Linked DNA regions of Homo sapiens: regions 2, 3 and 4 are each linked to region 1. The links come from fine-mapping of genetic effects on gene expression. A gene starts in region 1. Each other region holds a variant in brackets. All regions are shown on one strand. Distances are from middle to middle.

Region 1 (5,146 bases):
AAACATTTCCATGAGAAGTATGTCAAGTGCGAATACTGGCCTGGAAGTCTGGAGGCCAGGATTCCAGCACAGAGACCCCAGGAAGGAGTCACTTCATCTCTAGGGCTGAGGCAGGAGTCCTTATGGGTAAGTGATACAAATGTACCCGATAGGTTTCTACGGGGCTTTGCTAAATTTAAAATCTCCCAGGCACCATAAAACCTAGTCTCCAGGCAGGTTTTCTGGCATGGCAAACTTCTCTCCGACTCTGCTTTGAGATGATTGTCCTCGCCTCTAACTTGGTTTCCCCAAAATGGGCTGGGGAAAAAGTGGTGAGGGGACAAGGAAAGGGTAGAGAGGTAGGGAGGGAGGGAGAAAGGAAGGGAGGAAGGAAGAAAAGAAAAAAGGAAGGAAGGTAGAAAGAAAGGAAGAAAAGGAAGGCGGGAAGGAAAGGAAGGAAAGGAAGGAAGGGAAGGGAGGAAGAAAAGAAAGGAAGGAAAGAAAAGAAGGAAAGGAAGGAAGGAAAAAGGGAGGGAGGACAAAGGACGCTATCTAGGTGTAAGCAAGGCTGCACTGTTCCCTCATCATCAGTTTCCTCCAGATCTTCCTTGAGGCCCTTTAACACAGGCTCACGGTACTGAGAGACTGGAACCCCGACTTTATCAACTCTATGGTTCTTTTATTTTTTTTCACTGCCACTCAGGCTGGAGTGCAGTGGCCCAAACATGGCTCACTGCAGCCTCAACCTCCCAGGCTCAACCAATTCTCCTACCTCAGCCGCTCAAGCAACTGGGACTACAGGTGCATTCCACCATGCCCAACTAATGTGTTCATTTTTGTGGCACTGAGGTCTTGCTGTGTTGCCCAGGTTGGTCTCAAACTTCTGGCCTCAAGTGATCCTCCTGCCTCAGCTTCCCAAAGTGCAGGGATTACAGGCACGAGCCATCACACCTGGCCGACTTCTACAGCTTCTTTCACAAATATGGCGAAGAGAAAAAAGGAAGCAAGAGACAGGAGAATCTGGAGATTCATTGCAATGCATGTCGAGTCACACAAAACAATTATGCCACAATGGAGGAATTCTGAACACTGGATATCTGGTGATAATGAGCTATTACTAATGTTTAGGTTTGCTAATGGTACTGCGGTTGTGTTTTTACATGGAGGCCTCATCTTTTAGCCACTCATATACATCCTAAAACGTTTCCTAATCCAACTACACAAAGTTGGATTTGCTTGGAGACCATGGGGAGGGCACAGGTGAATAGGATTGGCACAGAATTGATGACTGCTTTAGTTGGGCTGTAGGTACTTTACAGTCAATCTACTATTTTCTCTACTTTTGTATACATTTGAAGTTTTCGTATTAGAAAGTGTGGCTCACACCTGTAATCTCAGCACTTTGGGAGGCCCAGGTGGGAGGATGGCTTGAGACCAGCCTGGGCAAGAGAGTGAGAGCCTTTCTAAAAAAACAGAAAAGTAAAAAGAGACTCATGGCTGGTTCCCGTCCAGTCTCCACTGCTCTTCTTCTAAGCTCAGCCGGAGGGCACGGCCGGTTGGGCTCCTATCCCACAAATCTTCCAGTGGGAAATGGACAGATACCATTCTGCTAGGGCACATCCAGGAGGGGGCTAAGTGCCAAGCCCCCACTCCCCATCCCCAGAAGCTGGCCCGAGTTCCCACTCCCACGGTCCCCAGGCACCCTAGAGAGGGCAGAGGCAGACCGGGCGCCATGACTCATGCCTATAATCCCAGCACTTGAGGGAGACCAAGGCAGGAGGATCACTTGAGGCCAGGAGACTGAGACCAGCCTGGGCAACACAGCAAGACCCCATCTCTACAAAAAAAAACTTAAAAATTAGCTGGGCTGGTGGTGCGCGCCTGTAATCCCACTACTTCGGGAGGCTAAGGAGGGAGTAGGGCTTGAGCCTGGGAGGTCGAGGCTGCAGTGAGCTGTGAGGGCGCCACTGCACTCAAGCCTGGGAAACACAGCGAGACCCCATCTCAAAAAGGGCGAGACGGGGTGGGGCAGAGACGACGCCAGCAGGCCTCGGGGAATGGGTCGGGGGGGAGTGGGGTGCAGGCGGGGCTGGATCCAGCATCCTCGCCCCAGGGGTCCCCGCCCGCGGCGGCGGACCACGGAGGGGCCCGGGGCGGGGGTTAGCGCCCCGGCCCACCTGGGTGCAGGTGCTGGGCGGGGGGCGCGCGTCACCTTGAGGATGTTGTCGAAGATGGTGTCGCGGAACTCCAGCAGCGCCTTCTGGTCGAACTCGCGGCCGTGGATGATGCGCATCTGCTTGAGGAACGTGGACTTGCCGCTCTCGCCCGCGCCCAGCAGCAGGATCTTCACCAGGCGCCGGACCGCGCGCCGCTCGCGGGCCAGCAGCGCGTCGATGTCGCGGCTACGCCTCCGGGCCTCGCGCTCCGCGTCGCGCGCGCCGCTGCCCGCCCTGCGCTCGCGGGCCCCGCCGGCCTCGGCCGGCAGCAGGCAGCGGCTGAGGGTCCGCACCACCCCGGACATGGCCCCTCAGGCCGCGGCCGCGCCCCGCCGGCGCCCGGGGGCCATGGACGCTCCCGCCGGCGAGGGCGAGCCCGGGCCGAGGCACCGCCCCACGCCCCGCCGCTCGCCTCAGGCCGCGTCCGCCGCCGCCGCTGCAGTCGCTCCGAGGCCCGCACTCGTCGCCCGGCCGCCACTCGGGCCCGGCGGAGGGGCGGGCGGCGCCGCGTGAGGCCCGGCGGATTGGGCCGGCTGCCGTCCATCTGGCCGTGAGAGCCCTTCGATTGGCTCATCTCGCCAAGGGAGGCGGGCATCCCTTCCGGCCTCGGGGCGGGGTCGACGCCGAAAGAGGCGGGATCTTTGAGGTGAAGGCGCTTCTCATTGGACGCCCAGGCTGAGGTTCTTTCTTTCAGAATGAAAGGGAGGCGGGGTCGCCCGGGAGGCGGAGCGATCGTCCGCCATGGCCAATTATAATTGCTCTGAGTGGACATCAGACGTGCCCAACGGGCTTTGGATTGGGTGTTCGGGGGACGGGGCGTGACGAGAAGTGCCAGGTGTACAGAAAGATTCTCCCTTGGTTCCCAGATTGGGTCCGCCTGTGAGACCAGGACCTCGCGGAGTAGCCCAAAGGCTGGGAAATGCTGATAAGAGGTTCAGCTGCTCGTCGTATTCCCTCCGATGATCTTGTTTCTACACTATTTTCCTTCCAGAAACACTGGAGGGGGATGGGCCATAAATTTCAAACACATGCACCCTTTGAGAGTGGCATGGGCTTCTAGGAGGCTTTGCGAAAAGCTGACTAATCACTAAAATCACCAGAAGCTCCCCCAAAAGTCTTATGTCTCACAGTGATTGAGAGAGTGGGGTCTGGAGTTGCTGGGCCTGAGTTGGAATCTCCAGTCGACCAGTTACTAGGTGTACTAGTTGCATAACTTTTTTTAGCAGCTTTCCCCACCCCCCCCAACAAACCCTTTTGGATGTTCTTAGCTTCCGTTTCCTCATCTGTAAAACGGGGGTGTCATTGACGACATTGGTTATGGCTTGACATTGCTCAAATCGTCATGAAGATATAAACTGAGAACATGAACTTACCAAACACTTAGCACGTGAGCTAGCCCAAAATCAGCTCTTGATAGAGATCAGCTGATTACAGATTCTTGACTCTCCCAGATCTACTGAATCAGAACCTCCTAGAAGGAGCTCAGGTATCCCTTAAGATTAAAGGCGTGAGCCGCCGCGCCTGGCCCAGTGTGTAGTCTTTTATCTCTCGCCACCCCCCACCTTTTACCCTGAGTCCCCAAAGTCCAATCTCTGTGCGGTGTCTGTTAACTCTGCTGATTATTTCTTTTGCAGTGCCGAAGCTTTTTAGTTTAATTAAGTCCCATCTATTTATCTTTGTTTTTGTTGCATTTGCTTTTGGGTTCTTGGTCACAAAGTCTTTGCCTAAGCCAACGTCTAGAAGGATGTTTCCGATGTTATCTTCTAGAATGTTTATGGTTTCAGGTTGTAGATTTAAGTCTTTGATCTATCCTGAGTTGATTTTTGTATAACGTGAGAGACGAGGATCCAGTTTTATTCTTCTACATGTGGCTTGCCAATTATCTCAGCACCATTTGCTGAATAGGCTGTCCTTTCCCCACTTTGTTTTCATTTGCTTTGTTGAAGATCAGTTGGCTGTAAGTATTTGGCTTCATTTCTGGGTTCTCTATTATGTTCCATTGGTCTCTGTGCCTATTTTTATATTAGTACCATGCTGTTTTTGTGACGATAGCCTTATAGTATAGTTTGAAGTCAGGTAAAGTGATGCCTCCAGATTTGTTCTTTTTGCTTAGTCACAGATCTAAACTCCCCAGAAGGCTGGGCACGGTGACTCACAACTACAGTCCCAGCAGTTTGAGATGCTGAGGTGGGAGGATCACTTGAGCCCAGGAGGTCAAGGGTGCAGTGACCTATGATCGTGCCACTGTACTCCAGCCTGGACAACGGAGCAAGACCCTGTTTCAGAAACAAAACAAAACAAAAACCAACTCCCTGACAACCTTGAATGCACATAATATGTATTATTTGTCACTTGCTACAAATACTACAAATCATGCCATGAATTTGTATCACTTATGAGTCAAGATTTTGTAATCCTTGGAAAATGATTAGAAAGTCTTGCTTGTTTGTGGAAATGACCTCCCATAGGAGGCCAAATATGGCTGGGCACGGTGGCTCATGCCTGTAATCCCAGCACTTTGGGAGGCCAAGGCAGGCAGATTATCTAAGGTCAGGAGTTCAGGACCAGCCTGGCCAACATGGCGAAACCCTGTCGCTACTAAAAAATACAAAACTTGGTTGGGTGTGGTGGCGGGCGCCTGTAATCCCAGCTACTGGGGAGGCTGAGATAGGAGAATTGATTGAACCCGGGAGGCGGAGGTTGCAGTGAGCCGAGATCGCACCATTGCACTCCAGCCTGGGCAACAAGAGCAAAACTCTGCCTCAAAAAAACAAAAAAAAAAAAACAAAAACGGGAAGGCCAAATACTAGGTCTGGCATGGTAGCTCACACCATGTAATCCCAGCACTTTGTGAGGCTGTAATCCCAGCACTTTGTGAGGCTGAGGTGGGCAGATCACTTGAGGCCAGGAGTTTGAGACCAGCCTGGCCAACATGGTGAAACCTCCATCTC
Region 2 (5,146 bases), 50 kb before region 1:
CTTCCTTTTAACTGAGCCACAGAAGTGATGCTCATGGGGTGTCTGCTGTCTGTGACCAGCAGTGGACAGCAATGGCCAGGCATGGCAAGGGGCCAGTGGGGAAGGCGGCCAGGCTGCCTCCCCTATGGAAAGGGAAGATTTCCATCCCCCACCCCGGCCCACCCTGCTCCTCTCAGAGGAGAAAGGGTCGTCACAAGGTAATCACCAGACACAGCCTTTTTTCCTCCTCTTTTTGTTTCTATCTCTGACTGGAATGGCAGGAAAAAGCAAGACGGCAGAGGGAACAGGGAGGCGCCTAGTACCTGGCTGACAGCAATTCTCAAAGCAGCTGCAGCTCTTCACAGGGACTGTCAAATGCTGTCAGCTGGGGAAGAAAGACAAGCAAAAAACAAGGTGATGAAGCATTGCCCTAGAAAAGCTTTGACACTCAGGAAAAGATTGGAAGAGAAACAAGGGTCTACTGCAGGGGTGGGGGAGGGAGCCCTGGTAACGGTGACTTCAGATGGGTATGGTCTTTCAGTTTTGCTGTAATTGTGTATTTTGACAACAACGACTATTAGGGTCCTACTATCTAGCTATTTTAATAAAATGCTCCATCATTTTTTTTGAAGAATAAAAAGAAGGGCAAATGTATAAAGTATAGGAATAACAGTCATGCACCCACCACCCAATAAACAAGAATTTCACATCATCATCTCTGCATCTGATTATTACAGACTTTACAAATGCATCACTGACTACAACAGTATATTTTCTGTATCTTCACAAAGTCTCATGGTCTGAAGCATAAGATCGAACCAAAGGGACGACTACTGACCCACCTGTGGCCACCTTACCCTAATCACCCGCCAAGTGCACGTCTAGATTAAAAGCTCACTCGCTGGAGACAGGCTCATGTTTGGTCTTCTTCACTGCTATATCCCCAGCATGTAGCACCGGGTCTCACACAGTAGGTGATCCATGAATGCAGAATGAATGAATGAATGAGTGAAGAAGGGGAGAAACAAGCAGACTGGGCTTTGAGGCCCAAATTTCTCACAGTGATTACCAAGATGATGTGGCCTCAGGCACAGCATAACTGGTACGGGCTTACTTCCATGTCGTGACAATACAAGGGCTTGACTTCCTAAATTGGGAGGTCCCTTCCAGCACTGACACCCTGCACTGACGGAACAGGGCAAAGACAGAAGCCTGTCAAAGCTGCTGCACCATGCCGAATCCCAGACAGAAGCCTCACTCAGTACGATCAGCCCCAGACACTTCTGCTTCCTTCTTTGGAAAATCCTCAATTTCCATCCAAGTTCTAAATGAATGAGAATCTTCTTTCCCAGACTCTGTGAGTGTATGGGGAAAAGGTGTAAACCTCAATTTCACATTGAGATACTGACATGTATTTCCCAATTGTTTCTTCCAGCCCTGCTCTTTAGGAGATTAAAATTTCCTTTCTACCGCAACCACATCTTCCACTCTCTTTTGATTCTTTTACCTTAACTGTTAAAGTTAACTTGAGAAGGAATGTGCAGATGGAAAGGGGCTAGTAAAAACGTCATCCTTAAGATGCCCTGGAGGACATTAACATTTACAGGCAAAAGCCTGAGGAGAAACAGGCTATTTGCAGGGTCTCAATGTATCTCCCTAAGATATGTGTTAACAACACAGAGAAAATACTGACTTCCCAGTGGAGAAAGGTGGCCAACAGTGCCTCAACCAAGCAACCCAGGCTTGCATCACCAGCCACTGGACAATATCACGCACTTCCTGATCAGATGATCTGAGCAGGGCTCAACGGCACGCCTGCGGTTTCTGTGCCAAAAAAATGCATCCCCTCATCCTGATGACGAGAAAATACCAGACAAACCCAAACAGGAAGATTCTACACAATACCTGGCCAGTGCTCTGGACATGTCAAGGTCATGAAAGGCAAGGAAAGATCAAGGAGCTATCATGGACTGCAAGAGACCAAGGGGACACAATGACTAAACACAATGGGGGATTCCAGGCCAGGATCCAGCAGACAGGAGCGCGAGAGGAAGCAGCGGACAGGACGCGAGAGGAAGCAGCGGACAGGACGCGAGAGGAAGCAGCGGACAGGAGCGCAAGAGGAAAGGTGGGTCACATTCAGACAAGGTCTACAGTTAATTGATGCTTTCATACCGATGTCAACTTCTTAGTTTTAATAGTTGTATAGTGGTTAAGATGTTAACATTAGGGGGACTTGGGAGAAGAATATAAGGAAATTGAACTGAGGGGACTATTAGCAGACTATATAGCACCTCTCAGATGATTGAGAAAAATAAAAATTACTCTGCAGGAAAAGGATGGGTAAAAGATATGAATAGGGTGGGGCATGGTGGCTCACACCTGAAATCCCAGCACTTTGGGAGGCCGAGGCGGGTGGATCACCTGAGGCCAGGAGTTCGAGACCAGCCTGGCCAACATGGTAAAACTCCATCTCCACTAAAAAATATAAAAATTAGCTGGTGTGGTGGTGGGTGCCTACAGTCTCTGCTACTCGGGAGGCTGAGGTGGGAGAATCACTTGAATCCAGAGGTGGAGGTTGCAGTGAGCTGAGATGGCGCCACTGCACTCCAG[G/C]CTGGGCAACAGCGCGAGACTCCATCTCAAAAAAAAAAAAAAAAAGGAAAAAAAAAGACGTTTCCAATAGCAAAATATGAAAAACAGTTCAAAAGTACCTCAATGAAAGAAGGAATGGATCCTAGTATCTTTCCACAGTGGAGCATCAGACAGCAGTGAAAAGGGAAGAACCGCTGCTATGTGCCTCGCCTGATGAAATTCCAACATGTGGAGTGAAAAAGGCAAGTCACAGAAGCATATATACTATACACTAAGAAATGACTTATATGAAGGTTAAGAATCAGTAAAACTCAAGACTGTCGTGTTTACAAATAATAAATGGGTATTATGGCAAAATCATAAGAACGGCAAAGGATTCATGACTTCAACTTGACTCTGGGTGCTAAGGGGGCAAACGGCTGTGAGAGTGAGAGGCATTTCTGGATACCCTGGGTGTGTATTAATATCAGCTGTGCACATTTATGCTGGTTATCAGAAAAATTGTACATTTTACTTTATATACGGTTAATTTTGAAAGGTAGAAAAAAACAAAAAGCAAACAGGCAAAACCCCCCAGATTTTCTGGTTATAGATTCAGACCCCAAATGAATCTAAATAACTGGGCTTTGTGAAGTTTTTAGACCTTAAAACGAAAGGAACAAATCTGAAGGGAACAACTGGGAGGAGTTGGATTTGCTTCCGAGGCGCTGATCTGAAGGCGTTCGTGAGTTGCCCATACCCACAGGTCCAAAGTGGGAAGCTGTTGTGGGGGGTGTTATTTCCTACTATGAACAAGATCTCTAAAAAAAACTAAATTTCTCGGGTTGTGCCAATGCTGATGATTCTAAGAACCCTCCGTATTCCCAGAAGAAAGCTATTGATCTTACCTGAGTGGCTCTTGCTCCTTCCCCTCTTGAGCCTTTTATATAGCATCTGCCTCCATCCCGTGTTTTGGTTGTTGATCATTACAACTTACGGTGATTTAGAGCTTGCTTGGACTGTTACACAGTTTTTAAGGAAATTCAACTAACGGTCCAAAATAGTCATGTAAAAAACACACTATCAGGTGCCCAGCAAGAAGGCCTACTCACTCACCAGCTGAAACTCGCTTCTCCGGCTGAAAGCCTCCCTGATGCCAGAATCCCTCCAGAGTGCGCTCAGGGCCGGGACGTACAGCTGGAAGGTGGCCGGCTCCACAGGCAGCCCCGCCTTGTTCTCGAAGGCCATCAGGAACATCCCATGCTTCTCATTTTCAGAATACTGCCAAGGAATGCCAAGCTTATCTCGTGCATCAACAAGAACCCTTGAGCCCTAGAAAATAAAAGAAAGAAGAGAGGATTTAATTGCATTCCAAAGACTAAACCACGCTAGAGAAGCTCAAAATGGGCATCCATTGTCATAACGCAGAAAACTCACAAGCTCTGAGCTGTGCAGCCTGAGTCTGTCTCTTGGTTTGTTTGTTGTGATGTGGAAAGTCTTAACTCTCAGCAGTATAACCTCACCAAGACAGACGCACATGGCCGAGAGCAGTGGCTCACACTGTGAGCCTCCCCTTTGGGAGGCCAAAGAGGGAGGACTGCTGGAACACAGGAGTCTGAGACCGGCCTGGGCAACAGAGCAAGACCCTGCTTCTACAAAAAATTAAATCAAATTAAAAACAGCTGGGCTTGGTGGTGGCACACCTGTAGTCTCAGCTGAGCGGGGAGGATTGCTTGAGCCCAGGAGGTCAAGGCTACGGTTATCTATGATTGCTGCACTATATTCTAGGCTGGGCAACAGAGCAAGACCCTGTTTCAAAAAAAAAAAAAGAAAAGAAAAAAGAAAAAAAAGAAAACAGATGTACATAAGCACCACAGAAAGAAGTCTGCTTTCTGCTATCATTCATTTGCAAAGCTACTGGAAAAAAGACAACTGGGCGGGGAGGAGGTGGCAACAATTTCAGAAAATTTCACTGGAAAATGAAGTGTATCAGTAAAAAAACAACTTTTTTTTTTTTTTTTTTCTTAGATGGAGTTTCACTCTTTTTGCCCTGGCCTGGAGTGCAATGGAGTGATCTCGGCTCACTGCAACCTCCGCCTCCCAGGTTCAAGCAATTCTCCTGCCTCAGCCTCCTAAGTAGCTAGGATTACAGGTACCTGCCACCAGGCCCGGCTAATTTTTTATTTTTAGCTGAGATTACAGACCACCACGGACTGCTAATTTTTGTATTTTTAGTAGAGAGGGGGGTTCCACCATGTTGTCCAGCCTGGTCTCGAACTCCTGACCTCAGCTGATCCGCCCGCCTCAGCCTCCCCGCCAAAAAAACAATGTTTTAACAACAACTATAGTAGCCTCCACCCCTTATCCGTGGCATAAGTTCCAAGACCCTCAGTGGATGTCTGAACGGTACCAAGCCCTACCTGTATTGTTTTTAAAGTTTAATTTAATTTATGAATTAGGCACAGTAAGAGATTAATAATAGCTAATAATAAAATACAACAATTATAACAATATACTGTCATGAAAGTTAAGTAAATATGGTCTCTCCTTCTGTCTCTCAAATGTGGTATCACCGTCCGCGCCTATTTTCCGTTGG
Region 3 (5,146 bases), 72 kb before region 1:
CAAAGAGTATCCATATTAATTTTTTAAAACAGCTCTGGCCGGCTGGGCACGGTGGCTCATGTCTGTAATCCCAGCACTTTGGGAGGCCGAGGTCGGCGGATCACGAGGTCAGGAGATTGAGACCATCCTGGCCAACACGGTGAAACCCCGTCTCTATTAAAAAAAATACAAAAAATTAGCCGGGCGTGGTGGCAGGCGCCTATAGTCCCAGCTACTCAGGAGGCTGAGGCAGGACAATGGCACGAACCCGGGAGGTGGAGCTTGCAGTGAGCCGAGATCGCACCACCGCACTCCAGCCTGGGTGAGAGAGTGAGACTCTGTCTCAGAAAAAACAAAAACAAACAAACAAAAAAAACACAGCTCTGGCCAAATTCTCTCCCAAAAAGGTTGTACCAATTTATATCCTAATGAACAAGGGTTTAAGATACCCACTTCTTTATACCCTTAACACACTGGATATTATCAATTGAATTTTTTTCTGAATTTGATGGGTGAAAAGTGATATGTCATTACATTTTAAGTCTAAGTGTTTTTGTTTTTTTAAATCATGGGGGGGCAAGTACTTTTTCAAAATTGCTTTTATAAAATTAAAGGTTTATAATAGGAAGTTACAATAAAATAGATCATAGTGACATGCAGAGCTAAGATTCAATTCAAGCTATAGACTGGCCTGGTACTGTGAGGAAAATAAAATATATCCTCAACATTATTCAACTGCATAGATAGCAACAAATAAACAAACCTACAATGTATGACTTTACTGAGGTTCACTGCCATAATATACTATAAACAGGATAACCATATGCCCCACTTGCCCTGGAGAGTCCCAATTTGAGTCAATCATCTTGGCAAAATTGTTTAATAGGGTCTTGTTTTATTTATAAACATGTCCCGTTTGGAAATTAAATTAAATGATCACACAATTTTAAATTTAGGCTCAAATTGAGGCTCAATAGCCTCTAGAACCATATCAAGCTCAAAGAGTTCAATTCTGACATAGTTCAGCTAGGCTTGTGACAGGGCAATGCTTGTCCATTGGAGTTGGCATTAGATTAAGTTAGAGTTAGCTAGGCGTGGTGGTGCACACCTGTAGTCTCAGCTACCCAGGAGGCTGAAGTGGGGGAAATCTCTTGAGCCCAGGAGTTTGAGGATGCAGTGAGCTACGATAAGCGTGCCTGTGAAAAGCCACTGAGCTCCAGCCTGGGCCACATAGTGAGACTCCATCTCAACAACAATAACAACAACAAAACAAAACAAAACAACACACAGAAAGAAAGAAAGAAAAAGAACAAACAAAAACAAAGCAACATGGATGCTTCACTGGGCAGCAGAGCTAATGGGATCCTGTGCTTGTTGCTTTGTGTTTCCACGTAGGACGATTACAAATCAGAGTTACTGAAACCGAATGCCCCTTCACTGTATACCATAGGAATACTGGCACTGCCTAAGTGCAAGGCCATCGTGCAAGATTATGGCAATGTTTTAAGATCATCTAAACGTGGACCTGGGGGTACTGCAAGCGCCAGGCTCTGATGACTCCTTGCAGAGCAAATGGACAGGGAACAGACTTAGTAAACCAAATTATTAAAATCAAAGAAAAGGCCAGGCGCCGTGGCTCACACCTGTAATCCCAGCACTTTGGGAGGCTGAGGTGGGTGGATCACTTGAAGTTAGGAGTTCAAGACCAGCCTGACCAACATGGCGAAACCTCGTCTCTACTAAAAATACAAAAATTAGCCAGGTGAGGTGGCAGGCACCTATAATCCCAGCTACTCGGGAGGCCGGGGCAGGAGAATCGCTTGAACCTGGGAGGTGGAGGTTGCCGTGAGCTGACATGTCGCCACTGTACTTCAGCCTGGGCGACAGAGCAAGACTCCCTGCCACTCAAAAAAAACCAAAAAACCAAAAAAACGAAACCGCACATAGTGAACTTGCCCAGTCTGATGACTTCTGACATATGCATACAGCTGTGGGACCATCATAACAGCCAAGATCATGAGCAAACACCCAAACAACTCCCACTGTGGCCT[T/C]ATCAGCCCTTCCCCTCCCCTGCACTCCCTTCCTGCCCAGGCAACCCGTGGTCGGCATCTATCCCTCCATGTTGGTCTGCATATTCTAGATTCTCATGTAAGTCAGATCTTAGAGGACACTCCCTTCTTTGTGTGGCCTCCTGCACTTGGCACAATTCTTTCCAGATTCGCCCATATGCTGCAGGTTACCAGGTGCTCCCTTTCCTGGCTGAGCAGTATCCCCACAGAAGGGTGCACCCCAGTCTGTTCATCCATCTGCTTGTTGATGGCCACGTTCCCAATGTTCAGCTGCCATAAACATGTGTGTGCAAGTCTTTGTGTGGACAAATATTTTCACTTCTCTTTGGTAAATATCTACATGTGGAAGGGCTAGCTCATGTGATAATTGTATGTTTAACTTTTAAGAAAGTGCCCCGCTTTTCCAAAGCAGGAGTACCATTTCACATTTCTACCAGGGGTGTGTGAGAGCCTGAGTTCCCACCCCCGCCCTCACTGTGCCTTGGGTGGTCGCCTTCCAAAGGGCAGCCTCCTAGGAGAGCATGTGGTGTCTCACCACGGTGTTCAACTGCATGTGTGTCATGACTGATGACGTCGACTGAGCATCTTTTCATGTGTTATTTGCTTCAGGAATCTCTTCTTTGTTCAAATCTTTTGTCCTTTTAAAAAAATTGTTTTCTTGAGTTTTGAGAGTTCTTTACATATTCCGGATAATCTGACAAAGGACTCATATCGAGAATTCCCAAGAAAATGACCAACAACCCAACAGGGCAAAAGATTTGCACAAACCTGTTATAGAAGAGGATATCCCACTGGCCAACAGATGTACAAAAGGTGCCAAACATGCTGGGTGCAGTGGCTCACGCCTGTAATCCCAGCACTTGGGGAGGCAGAGGCAGGCGGATCACGAGGTCAGGAGCTCGAGACCATCCTGGCTAAAATGGTGAAACCCGTCTCTACTAAAAATGCAAAAAATTAGCCGGGCGTGGTGGTGGGCACCTGTAGTCCCAGCTACTTGGGAGGCTGAGGCAGGAGAATGGCGTGAACCCAGGAGGCGGAGCTTGCAGTGAGCCAAGATCGCACCACTGCACTCCAGCCTGGGCAACAGAGTGAGACTCCATCTCAAAAAAAAAAAAAGAAAAAGGTGCCAAACTTATTTAGTCAGGAAAGTTCTTACTTAGAAATGCAAAGTAAAACATCAATTGATACCCACCAGGAGGCTTAAAATCAAGAGGACAATGCCAAGTGTTGGTTAGAACGTGGACTAACTGTCCCACACTGCTGGAGAGACTATAAACCAGTACGGCCAGTTTGGAGAAATAGTTGGCAAACCCAGCAATCCCACTCCTAGGTATATTTCCAAGAGAAATCAGTGCATATATCCATTAAGAGACCTGTCCAAGAATGTTCAAAGCAGCTTTACTCACAGTAGCCAAAAACGAGAAACAAACACCATGTCTGTGAACAGGAGAAGAAATAAATTATGGTGTATTCATTTAATGGAAGGCTATAAAGAAAAAAGAAGAAAATACCAATCCACGTAGCAACACAGATGAATCTCTCAGTCATTAAGCAAAGAAGCCAGCTAAACGATTCCATTTAAACAAACTTCAAAAACAGGCAAAACACTAATCTACAGTGATGGAAGTGAAACTAGCGTGGTCACCAGGAGGAGTGGTATCAATGGGGAAGCAGCGGGAGGGACTTTCTTGGATGCTGAAATGTTCTTTCACGTGGGTGGTGGCTGTGTGAGTAGATACATACGTAAATCTCATTGTGTTGTATACACCTAAGATTTGTGCATTTTGCACACAGAAATTATACTTCAATTAAAACAAATAAACAAGGCTGGGGGCGGTGGCTCACGCCTGTAATCCCAGCACTTTGGGAGGCCGACATGGGTGATCACCTGAGGTTGGGAGTTTGAGACCAGCCTGGCCAACATGGCAAAACCCCTTCTCTACTAAAATACAAAAATTAGCCAGGCGTGGTGGTGGGCATCTGTAATCCCAGCTACTCGGGAGGCTGAGGCAGGAGAATTGCTTGAACCCGGGAGGCAGAGGCTGCAGTGAGCCAAAATCACACCACTGCACTCCAGCCAGGGCGACAGAGTGAGACTCAGTCTCAAAAATAAACAAACAAACAAAACCAGAATGAGATACCTCTACACGGCCACCAGAATGGCTATTTGAAAAAGAGGACAAGCACTGGTGATGAGGTGGAGTAATGGGAACTTGGCCTCTGCTGGTAGAGCACAAATACAAACACTGTGAAAAATCCATGAACACTGAACCCAGGCACACCTGGATGCCCCAGCAAGTCCACCCCTGGACAGCCCTGAGGGAAATGCCTACATCTCTTCACCAAAAGACAGGTTCTTGAATACCTACAGTAACATTTTTGTAATGACGCTGAGCTGGCGTCTACCCGGACGCCCATCACCAGGAGGGCAGGGAACTAAATTGCGGGACATTCACAAAATGGAATTACCATGCAGCAACAAGGAAGAACGTGCCGCAGAATTGGAAGAACCGCACAAAACGAAATGGCGACGAGAAGGAGCCAGTAACACAGGAGTAAATACCGTGTGAGGCCACAGATGAAGCAGCAACGCAGAAATACCCATTCTACAGAACAGCTGGTGTTCACGGTCAGAACTGGTTACTTCTGGAGAGCAGAAGGTGGTGTGAAGATGAAAGGGGTTCTGGGGCACAGGTCATTGTTTCCTGAGCTGGCGGCAGGTCACACAATCTGCTCAGTTTGTGAAAACTGAGTTAATATAGATGCACTTTTATTTCTATACATGTATATGCATATATACACACATGCATGCATATATATGTGTGTATATATATGTAATTCTCCAATAAAAACATTTTTTAAATGAAATAGGGAAAGGTAATAGGTAGTGGTGGGTGCGGTTTTGACTTTAATCAAGATTGTCAGGTAAGATTTCATGAAGATAACATCTGAGTCAAAACCTTGATGAGATAAAGGAGGAAGTGCATTCCAGGCAGAAGGAACAGCAAGCACAAGGGCCCTGATGGCGCTGGGAGGCCCTGAGTGTGCAGGGAGCAGCAGGAAGGCCAGTGCGCCTGCAGCAGTGACAGAGAGGAGGG
Region 4 (5,146 bases), 120 kb before region 1:
TGTCAGGGGTTTATTTTAAAAAGCAATTTCCAAGAAGCGTCCTGGGGTCACCACGCGTTCAGTCCAACTCTTCCCCGCTGCAGTGTTCCCGTGACGATGAGGCAAATCCAAATAGTCACCGGAGTCGAGCAAACACGGCGGCCCCTGCCTCCCCCGGCGGCTCCACAATGGCCCTCAGAGGGTCCGCGGCAGCCAGGCCCGTCCAACCTCCTGCCCTCTCTGAGAGGGGCCCGAGCTCTCGCAAGATTAACCAGAGACGACACCTACCAGATTCCACCACTGAGGCCTCCCTCGATGCCTGCTCCCTGGGCTTTTTAATGAACGCACTTCTGTCACATGGAAACTGAGCCCGGCATGGAGTCACGTGGCTCCACCCTGGGGCTCCTCTGATGCCGAGAGCTCTGGCTCTCCTGACTGTGGGCCCAGTGTCCATTTTCTCTCTCAGGCAGGGTGCTCTGCCCGCCACAGTGTGCCTGGTTTTCTGGATACAGCATGACTGAACCGCCCCTTCTCAGCAAAGGCCAACACGTCTTTCTCGAGTCCAAGACCATCTCCCGTTCAAGGGCCCTCACCGCGCTTTGTGAGTCTGTCTCGTGGGCCTCCTTCAGTGGTCTGTGACCAGCGGGAATGAATGGGGACGTGTTTTGTTCAGCCCTGACTCTTGGACGCTGGTGGCAGCCGCGGGCGCCCACTCACCTGGCACGTGGACGAAGGTGATGAGCGCGGCTGACGGCTCCCGGGGGCAGTGTGGGGTCCAGTCTGAAGCCGACGCCCCTCTCGGTCAGGCTTTCAGCAGCAGAAGGCAGTGGACTCTTCACCATTTCTTCCAACACTTTCTCACGTAGGAGCTCCACTGTCCCTTCTAACAGGACAGGGCTTGTGCAGCCGGGCTTGGTCTTGTGGTCAGGGAGAAGCGGGCAGGCCAGGGCCGAGCTGCGTCCGGCTCTCAGGGACTTCCTCTCCCTGTGCTCTGCCCACCTGGGGTAGGCCTCTGGGAACAGGGGAGTCACAGAAACCACGGGAAACGGAGTGGGTTGGAAGAGGCAGAGAACACGCTTTTCTCAGGGTCGCTTAACACAGGCAGGGGTACAGGAGAGCTCCGGCCATTTATTCCAAATGTATGAGCAGGAAGGAAAGAGGGAGGGAAGCTGCAAGAACAGGCGACTTTTTTTTTTTTTTTTCCCCCCCATCTGAAGTGAGATCAAACTTCTACCACATTCTACCTGTGCCCTTCTGGGTGGGTGGTGGCCGTCCTCTTGGGCGCCCCCTTGTGAGGGCTCGAGGCCTTTACTGGATGGGCAGGATGCGGGCAGCAGCTTTGTCGGCTGCCAACCCAACTCCTCCGACAGAACGGCAGGTGGCCCCTGTCGGAAGGGGGGTGTCTCTTTATTCCTGCCATCCTCCGGCCGCCTCTCCCGCCTGCACCACTTGGAGGCAGTTGTTTCACGTGGGGCTCTTGATGGCATAACCTGATGTCTGTCACGGACCCCCAAGCAGGAGCAATGCCTAAAGAGGGCAAAGGCCCGCGCGCCTGGCAGAGCTCCCTCCTCTGCTCCAACAGCAGAGCCCAGAGCATCCCTTGGCCCGACGCACAAGTCCCACAATAGCCTCTCCCAACGGGAACGACTTAGCCCTAATTACATGAGCTTTGATCACCGCTCGATTGTATGGCACAGTTATTTTTAAAAATCCAGTCCAAGTGGAAATACACCTGGAACATTTTATACTGCAATGACTGATGGACGACTTTGATATACAAAATAAATTGTTACTCAGCTTTTCTATAATGCTTACATCTTACATTTTCATTCTCAAAATTAATAAATGCTATCAACCCCAATTTTTTTTTTTTTTGAGATGGAGTTTCGCTCTTGTTGCCCAGCCTGGAGTGCAATGGTGTGATCTTGGCTCACTGCAACCTCTGCCTTCCAGTTTCAAGCGATTCTCCTGCCTCAGCCTCCCACGTAGATGGGATTACAGGTGCCTGCCACACCATGCCCGGCTAATTTTTGTATTTTTAGTAGAAATGGGGTTTCATCACCTTGGCCAGGCTGGTCTCAAACTCCTGACCTCGTGATCCACCCGCCTTGGCCTCCCAAAGTGCCAGGATTACAGGCGTCAGCCACCGTGCCCAGCCTCAACTCCAAATTTTAAAAAGGGCTTAAACGAAGAGGATGAAATTCTGGAAGGCTAAATGAAAAGAGAATGTGTCTGTTGAATTCGATAAGCAATTCCTTGCATTTGAGAAGGCAAGGAGCCGACGGGAACCTACCGACAGGGCTGCCACGCACTGCTGCAGAGCTTTCCGTGCAAAGCGCGGCTCCCCTCTGAGACTCGGCTCCTCTGCTGACATGGACCGGTTCATCTACCCACGCGGACGCCCATCCACAAACACTTAGTCACTGCTGGAGGCTTTTAAAACACCTGTCAAATGAAGAGTCACTTCACAAATGTTCACTCCCCGTTTCCATGTCTCCCCACGTC[A/G]GGGTGAACACTTTTTATGCGCTGTGACAAAAAGAGAAAGACTAGTGTGTGTTTTGGGGGCTGGAGGGGATCATTATTTTTTTGAATTTTTATTTATTGAGACAGAGTCTGTGTTGCCCAGGCTGGAGTCCAGTGGTGCGATCTTGGCTCACTGCAACCTCCGCCTTCTGGGTTCAAACGATTCTCCTGTCTCAGCCTCCCAAGTAGCTGGGACTACAGGCGCCTGCCACCAAGCCTGGCTAATTTTTGTATTTTTTAGTAGAGACGGGGTTTTACCGTGCTGGCCAGGCTGGTCTTGAACTCCTGACCTCAAGTGAAACACCGAAGTCTCCCAAAATGCTGGGATTATAGGTGTGAGCCACTGCGCCCAGCCTTTAAAAAAAAAAAATTATTTTAGATACAGGGGTCTTGCTATGTTGCCCAGGCTTATCTCAAATGCCTGGGCTCAAGCGACTCTCCTGCCTCAGCCTCCTAAGTAGCTGGACTACAGGTGTGTATCTCTACACTGAGCTAACTAAAAACTTGTTTTTGGTAGAGACAGGGTTTCAGCCACGTTGCCCAGGCTGGTTTTGAACTCCTGGGCTCAGGCAATCCTACTGCCTCGGGCTCACGAAGTGCCTGGATTACAGGTGTGAGTCACCACGCCCAGCCCGTTATTTCTGTTTATACGAATGTCACAGCATGTTTCCTGTGTGACCCTGCGGGCTGTCATCGCTGGCTGCCTGCCTTACGCCCACAGGTCTGGTGGTGGCGACCAGCAGCTGCAAAACGACCGACTCTATTGAAGACACACTGGGTGGCGCGGGAGGTTCCTGCCAATGCCGGGAGGAAGAGCAACCCAGGACGCCTGTGCCTGGGAGGGATGGAAAGGCCAGGGGAGGGTGGAGCTCAGGAGTGGAAGCACAGGGACTAAGGCCTGAGCCGGGCCCTGTGCTGAGCGCTCACCTCACTCTCCTGCCGCGCACCGCAGATGTGTGGAAGATGTGAGGAGGCCTCTGCTTCGGGAAAGGTGCTTGCCCCACGGTGGAACGCACTCTGGAAGCCCGTGGATGCGACGCATGCTGCAGAATCCACTGCCACACACATTCTTCTGTTTGAAAGCAGTAGGTGGGCTGGGCGCAGTGGGTCACTGTAATCCCAGCACTTTGGGAGGCTGAGGTGGGTGGATCACGAGGTCAGGAGATCGAGACCATCCTCGCTAACACGGTGAAGCCCTGTCTCTACTAAAAATACAAAAAATTAGCCAGGTGTGGTGTCAGATGCCTGTAGTCCCAGCTATTTGGGAGGCTGAGGCAGGAGAATGGTGTGAACCTGGGAGGTGGAGGTTGCAGTGAGCCGAGATCGCGACACTGCACTCCAACCTGGGCAACAGAGCGAGACTACGTCTCAAAAAAAAAAAAAAAGATAGCGGCGGGTGGGTGCCACACTCAGGGGCCCCCCACTTCTCAGCAGTGGCGGGGGAGGCAGGGACATAACACGCCAGGAAAACAGGTGTAATTTAAGGCACATTTTAATAGATTTATAAAAATCATATATACAAAACATGTTAAACTAACCACCGTGGCTATAACATATATTTTTACACTTTATCATATCTTAACCTCGTACACTGTATTCGTAAACCAAGTCCGGTCACGGCATGATGGCCCGGCGCAGGTGGTGCTGGCGCTGTAGCGACCGTCTTGGAGGGGCTGCACAGAGCACTCGGTTCCTTTCTGTATTTAAGGTCCTGAAAGGCACAGGCGCTAAAGCCAGAAGGCCGTCCAACTGGTCCCTTCGGCAGTGTGTCCTCCTGCTGCGTGGGCTGGGGCCTGAGCACAGGAAAGGGAGTTCAGGACACGGTGGCCATGAGTAGGTGCCAAGCTTACCACACTGAATTTCCTGGCGACGCTTGTGCCCATCGATGTGAGCTGGTTCAAATGGAGTTAAGAAAAAGGGCATTTCGAATTTTTTTTTTTTTTTTGAGACAGACTCTCGCTCTCTCGCCTGGGCTGGAGTGCAGTGGCGCGATCTCGGCTCACTGCAAGCTCTGCCTCCCGGGTTCATGCCATTCTCCTGCCTCAGCCTCCCAAGTAGCCGGGACTACAGGCGCCCGCCACCATGCCCGGCTAATTTTTTATATTTCAGCAGAGACGGGGTTTCACCGTGTTAGCCAGGATGGTGTCGATCTCCTGACCTCGTGATCCATCCGCCTCAGCCTCCCCAAGTGCTGGGATTACAGGCGTGAGCCACCGTGCCCAGCCAGGACATTTTGAATGTTTTAAACCAATTTGCCTGACAGGTCAAAAGGTAATTTTTTGAGATTCGAGACTGACAGATGCAACAGAGATTTTAAATTTTGCATAGGCTTGTTAAGAACCCAGACTGGGTGCAGCGACTCATGCCTGTAATCCCAGCACTTCAGGAAGGCTGAGGTGGGAGGATCACTTGAGGCCAAGAGTTCAACACCAGCCTGGGCAACACAGTGAGACTCCATCTCTATACAAAATTTAAAAATTAGCCAGGTGCGGGTGGTGGCCACATGCCTGTGGTCCCAGCTACTTGGAAGGCCAAGGTGGGAGGACTGCTTGAGCCCAGGAGTTTTGAGGCTGCGATGAGCTATGATCACACCACTGCACTCCAGCCTGGGCCACAGAGCAAGACCCTATATTTAAAATAAAAT

Evidence for each region. PIP is the estimated chance that this variant, and not a neighbour inherited with it, causes the effect.
Region 2: its variant is the best candidate, but not a certain one, in a credible set for the expression of GNA12 in whole blood (TOPMed, PIP 0.87).
Region 3: its variant is the best candidate, but not a certain one, in a credible set for the expression of GNA12 in whole blood (TOPMed, PIP 0.62).
Region 4: its variant is the best candidate, but not a certain one, in a credible set for the expression of GNA12 in B cells (Fairfax 2012, PIP 0.59).

What each region holds. Positions count from the first base shown.
Region 1 is chr7:2,841,662-2,846,807 of GRCh38, forward strand. GNA12 (G protein subunit alpha 12) reads right to left here and starts at 2,647. Exons shown (of 4, transcript NM_007353.3): 1 at 2,192-2,647. The coding sequence starts at 2,500. RefSeq lists enhancers at 1,954-2,771, 2,734-3,028, 3,011-3,140 and silencers at 2,121-2,170, 2,511-2,840.
Region 2 is chr7:2,791,262-2,796,407 of GRCh38, forward strand. GNA12 (G protein subunit alpha 12) reads right to left here. Exons shown (of 4, transcript NM_007353.3): 2 at 3,667-3,882. Among named protein-coding and RNA genes, the nearest start is that of GNA12, 50 kb to the right of the region's middle. The variant G/C (reference allele first, on the strand shown) is at 2,593.
Region 3 is chr7:2,769,409-2,774,554 of GRCh38, forward strand. All of the region lies in intron 2 of GNA12 (G protein subunit alpha 12), which reads right to left. Among named protein-coding and RNA genes, the nearest start is that of GNA12, 72 kb to the right of the region's middle. RefSeq lists a silencer at 2,038-2,182 and an enhancer at 3,519-3,568. The variant T/C (reference allele first, on the strand shown) is at 2,031.
Region 4 is chr7:2,717,844-2,722,989 of GRCh38, forward strand. AMZ1 (archaelysin family metallopeptidase 1) reads left to right here. Exons shown (of 7, transcript NM_001384743.1): 7 at 1-1,840. Among named protein-coding and RNA genes, the nearest start is that of AMZ1, 32 kb to the left of the region's middle. The variant A/G (reference allele first, on the strand shown) is at 2,485.